Linked DNA regions of Homo sapiens: region 2 is linked to region 1. The links come from fine-mapping of genetic effects on gene expression. Tissue or cell type: whole blood. Region 1 holds a variant in brackets; the other region holds the start of a gene. All regions are shown on one strand. Distances are from middle to middle.

The links. PIP is the estimated chance that this variant, and not a neighbour inherited with it, causes the effect.
Region 2: it holds the start of RPL3L, and the variant in region 1 is fine-mapped to the expression of RPL3L in whole blood (INTERVAL, PIP 0.96).

The regions. Positions count from the first base shown.
Region 1 is chr16:1,987,171-1,989,848 of GRCh38, reverse strand. It overlaps GFER (growth factor, augmenter of liver regeneration), which reads right to left. Exons shown (of 3, transcript NM_005262.3): 3 at 2,100-2,678. Among named protein-coding and RNA genes, the nearest start is that of SYNGR3, 1.5 kb to the left of the region's middle. RefSeq lists an enhancer at 342-921. The variant T/C (reference allele first, on the strand shown) is at 1,376.
Region 2 is chr16:1,953,541-1,956,218 of GRCh38, reverse strand. RPL3L (ribosomal protein L3 like) reads left to right here and starts at 1,530. Exons shown (of 10, transcript NM_005061.3): 1 at 1,530-1,590; 2 at 2,071-2,263. The coding sequence starts at 1,588. RefSeq lists an enhancer at 1,826-2,678.

The sequences.
Region 1 (2,678 bases):
CCATCCCCCACCCTCACCTGCCTGCCCCGGTCCCGAGATGGAGACCATCCTCAGGAACCCACCAGCCAGGTCCCCGGGGGCAGGGTGGGGCTCGGGTGCTGGGCGCAGACTTTGCTAGAGCCGGGAGGACAGACAGGAGGAGTCCGCTCCTCTGGGAAGGGCACTTGGGTGAGGGAGTAAAGGGGTAGGAGGTCCACGGGCTGCAGCATCTTCCCCCAACCCACGGGAGAGGGGACCGGCTCCCTGGCCCTGGTCCCAAGAAGACCAGATGGATAACTGGGGTCTTTCTCATGGCCCCCCACTGTGCTCTAGCTGCTATCACAGCTTCTAGCCTCTGGCGGGGAGGATCTGGTGGGAAGAAAGGCGTTGGCCCCAGGAGCACCTGTTGAGGGAGGGGACAGAGCCACCGTGGCCAGCGCCGCTGGGAGTGTTGGTTTCGGTGTCTCCGCTCCTTGCCCGTGGCCAGGTGGTGGTGCTCCCAATGCCCTCCCTACTCCTGGGTCTCCCCAGCGTACTTGCGGCGCCTAGTCTGGAATGGAGGGCAGGGAGCGGCATCAGAGACTAGGAGTCGGGTGGGGGTGGTGCCTGGCTGCCCTGTGTCCCGCTGAGTCCCCTCCACAGACCCCAGCCTTGGGTGCAACAAGGTCCCTCTCCTCATGTTCCTAGCAGGCTGGAAGTTCAGATGACTCCTAGGTTTCTGTCTAGAGCACTGAGATGTCTGCACTGACATTTACAGCGCCAAGCGCTTGACCTGTGTAGTGGCGGAGACTGTTACCACCCTGTACTTCAGATAATAAGCAACCCAGGTCCCTGCTACACGAGCCGGGTGCACAGATGGTGCTGCGTGGCCCAGCCCCCCTGGAGCTCATTCTTCAGCCTTGCTGGGCACAGGTGGGCAGAGCAGGTGTTGCCAGAGGCGCTACTCACTGTGTTCCAAGTCCATCACACTGTGCGTCCGATCACAACCCCTCTCACCTGTTGGCCACAGACCTCCCCTCTGTGTCATTCATTCTCTACTTCATCACTAACATCAGCACCCAGACATGCTGCACTTTCTCCTAAAAGCCAAACACTGTTGACCCCACCTCCCCTCCAGCTGCCTTACGTTACTGCTTCCTTTAGCAGCAAACTCTGCCTGCAACACCCTCCTCTCTCTCCCTCTGACCCGGCAGAATCAGCTCCCACCGCCACCTAAACTCAAGGTTGCCACTGACCTCTCCGTGCCAATCCCAAGGGCAAGTCTGATGCTGCTGTCGACTCATTTATTTCTTTAGTTATTTATTTATTTTTTGAGTTACAGTCGCACTCTGTTACCCAGGCTGGAGTGCAGTGGCGCAATCTTGGCTCACTGCAAGCTTTGCCTCAGGGGCTCAAG[T/C]GATTCTCCTACCTCAGCCACTGGAGTAGCTGGGATTCCAGGTGTGCCACCGCACCCAGCTAATTTTTTTTTTTTTTTTTTTTGTATTTTTAGTAGAGACGGGGTTTCGCCATGTTGACCAGGCTGGTCTCGAACTCCTGACTTCAAGTGATCTGCCCACCTTGGTTTCCCAAAGTGCTGGGATTACAGGCGTGAGCCACTATGCCCCTCCTGGAGGTCCTCCTCCCTCATGGGTCCTTCCTCTGTGACCTGTGAGCCTTAGGAGCCCAGGGCGCGATCCTGGGGAGGTCTCTCCCTCTGTGCTAACTCCTTTGGTCTGCGTGTCAACAGCTCTGGAACACCAGCTCAAGCCAGAACTTTTCCTTGCACTAGAGTTCCACTGGCCTGGATGCCTTCAAAAACAGACTCTGGCCTGGCGCAGTGGCTCACGCTTGTAATCTCAGCACCTTGGGAAGCTGAGGTGGGTGGTTCATGAGGTCAGGAGTTCAAGACCAGCCTGGCCAACACAGTGAAACCCTGTCTCTACTAAAAATACAAAAATTAGCAGGGGGTGGTGGTGGGCGCCTGTGATCCCAGCTGCTCGGGAGGCTGAGGCAGGAGAAATTGCTTGAACCCGGGAGATGGAGGTTGCAGTGAGCCGAGACTGCTCCACTGCACTCCAGCCTGGGCGACAGAGCTAGACTCTGTCTCAGAAAAACAAAACAACAACAAAAAGAAAAACAGATTCTAAGGCAAAGTGAAGTTTTATTCAGGAGTGAAACTTTAAGGAAGACAGGGAAAAAGGGAAGGCGGTGGGGGGGGCAGGGGGGCAGGGGAGGGACAGCAGATACAGGCGGTATGTTCCTAAGCTGAACACAGCCTTCCCAGAGGGCCCAGCTGCTTCCTGAGGCACTCACAGGCCTCGGGAAAGGCCAGAGAGAAGCGCGCTGTGTCTGGGCGAGGAAGGGACACCTCCTCTCCTGGCTGCCCCCCATCTCCCCTCTCTTATTTGTGCCACCTGGCCCCTCTGGGCAGCCTCTACAGAAGCCAGCAGCCGCACGGGGCCAATCTGGTGGGGACATAGCAGCTCCCTCCATGGAGGCCTGAGGCGGCCATGCCAAGGTGGGCCTGCGCCCAGGGAAAGGCTGAGACTCCTGGAGGATAGAGGTCCCTGGAGTTTTATGACCACAGGACACACTGTTGCTGGGCTGCTCTGGCTGGGGAGGCCCAAAGGCTGGGTCCCAGTCACCCCCCACCTTGCTGCACTCAGCCTTCTCCATCTCTGACCCACACGGCGGCTCCCAGCAGTCTCCTCGGACTCCAT
Region 2 (2,678 bases), 34 kb after region 1:
TTAGCCTGGGCACCAGAGAGAAACCCTGTCTCAAAAAAAAAAAAAAAAAAAGAAAAAAAAATAAGATTTCAACCCCCTCTTCATTCAAAACTTAAATTCAAAATTTAAATTTGGCCAGGTGCTGTGGCTTATACCTGTAATCTCAGCACTTTGAGAGGCTGAGGCAGGAGAATCACTTGAGGCCAGGAGTTTCAGACCAGCCTAGGCAACATGGTGAGACGCCCGCCTCTACAACAAGACACATTTAAAAATTAGGTCCTGCTGAGGCAGAAGGACCACTTAAGCCCAAAAGGTTGAGGCTGCAAGTGAGGTATGATCACACCGCTGCATTCCAGCCTGAGCCATGGAATGAGACATTGTCTCTTTAAATAAGGCCAGGCGCGGTGGCTCATGCCTGTAATCCCAGCACTTTGGGAGGCTGAGGTAGGCAGATCACAAGGTCAGGAGATCGAGAACATCCTGGCTAACACAGTGAAACCTCGTCTCTACCAAAAATACAAAAAGGTAGCCGGGTGTGGTGGCAGGCGCCTGTAGTCCCAGCTACTTGGGAGGCTGAGGCAGGAGAATGGTGTGAACCCGGGAGGGGGAGCTTGCAGTGAGCCGAGATCACGCCTCTGCACTCCAGCCTGGGCAACAGAGCGACTCCATCTCAAAAAAATAAAAAAGATAAATTCATAAAAGTATTTCAATGATTGTGAATGACAGGAGTCAGATCTTGATTTTTTTTTTTTTTTTGAGACGGAGTCTTACCCTATTGCCCAGGCTGGAGTGCAGCGGCGCGATCTCGCCTCACTGCAACCTGCAACCTCTGCCTCCCAGGTTCAAGTGATTCTCCTGCCTCAGCCTCCCAAGTAGCTGGAATTAACAGGCCCACACCACCACGCCCGGCTAATTTTTATATTTTTAGTAGAGATGGGGTTTCACCATGTTGGCCAGGCTGGCTTTTTTTTTGTTTTTAAGACAGTGTCTCGCTCAGTCACGCAGGCTGGAGTGCAGTCAAGGTTCACTGCGGCCTGACATCCTGGGCTCAAGTGATCCTCCTGCCTCAGCCTCCCAAAGTGCTGGGATTACAGGCATGAGCCACTGCACTCAGCCAGGGATCTCAATCTGGAAGCACAGCTCTGGTGATCCTCAAGGTGCAGTCAGCCCTCCCCCTCGTCTGCCCTGTCCCCAGCCCTGCTCCCCGCTGTTTATCCAGCTGTCTCCCAGCCCTCAGGACAGGAACCCCCTCTGCCTCCAAGTCGGCAAACTGCTCCAGACCCCTCCTCTTGGCCGCTGCCTGGGAGAAGGCCCCCACCGGCTACCTTGGCCCCCACCTTGCCTGGCCAGTCCTGTCCTGGGAGGGTCATGACCCAGCCCCAGGGCCATCGAGGAAAGGAGTGCCAGCCCTGGCTCCGGGTGCCCCACTCAGGCTGTCTATCTGATGCCCCCAACACTGCCCCGCCCCTGCCTGCTCCTGGCACCGGAGACCCTGCTGACTGTGCCAGGGGCTAATCTGGGAACTGGCAGCTGTGAGTCCTGGCCCTGCCACTCGACCTCTGGCGGCTAGCGGCGAGGCCCCTTCCTGACCTTCAGGGATCGGCCACCATGGTTGGTGGGACCAGGGTGAGGGTGGGCTGGGGTTGGAGCTGGAACTCTGGGGGGGTGGGACAGCTGGGCTTCTGGATGCTCCCTCAGAGGGACAGTCTCCCAGCCTGTGAGGGGATGGGAGGCTGGAGGGGGAAACAAGGGGACGAGGGCTGGGCTCCTGGGCCTGGGAGGGCCCTGGAGATGAACAGATGGCAGCGGCCACCTGCCCCAGGAGCCCTTGGCTGCAGTATGGGTGCGACCCTCCTGGGCCCCAGGCTGAGCCCACAGAGGCAGGAAGCCTGTGGCTATGGAGACCCCATCCCAAAGACGCTGCCCCTTGGTGAACCTTCCTCTCCCCTCCTGTAGGCAGACAGGGGAGGTGCTGAGCACAGGCCTCAGTCTGAAGCCTGTAGTCCATTTCTCCAGGTATGGGTTCTGGGACCATCCAGCTCTACCACCAGGGACACCCCAGGTCTGACCTCCTTCCTTCCTGCCCCCCAGTCCCACCGGAAGTTTTCCGCCCCTCGGCACGGACACCTGGGCTTCCTGCCCCATAAGAGGAGCCACCGGCACCGGGGCAAGGTGAAGACGTGGCCGCGGGATGACCCCAGCCAGCCCGTGCACCTCACGGCCTTCCTGGGCTACAAGGCGGGCATGACCCACACCCTGCGGGAGGTGCACCGGCCGGGGCTCAGTGAGTCACAGTTGGGACCCTTGGGGGAGGGGGAGGGCTGAACCTTCCAGATGCTCGGAGCCAGAACTCACGCTTTTGGTCCAGACAGGGCCACAGTCCCAGGGAGCACCAGGCCTCGCCCCCGGGAATTGGGGTGGACGCTGAGCACAGGCAGGGCTTCCGGGCGGGTTCTGTCATGGCCCCAGCTCGCAGATGAGGACATTGAGGCACAAAGCAGTGAGGAACCTGGTCCAGTCACCGGGGCGGTAAGCGCAGGAGCTAGGATTCAAAGGCCAGCGCCCCAAGCCCTCGGTTCAAACCACCTGCCAGGACATCTGCACTTTTTGGCCATTTCGGGTCTATTTCATGTACCATTATTTCATATGTACGCCTATGTATATAGTTAGTTTTTGTTGTTTTAATCGTAGATTCACAA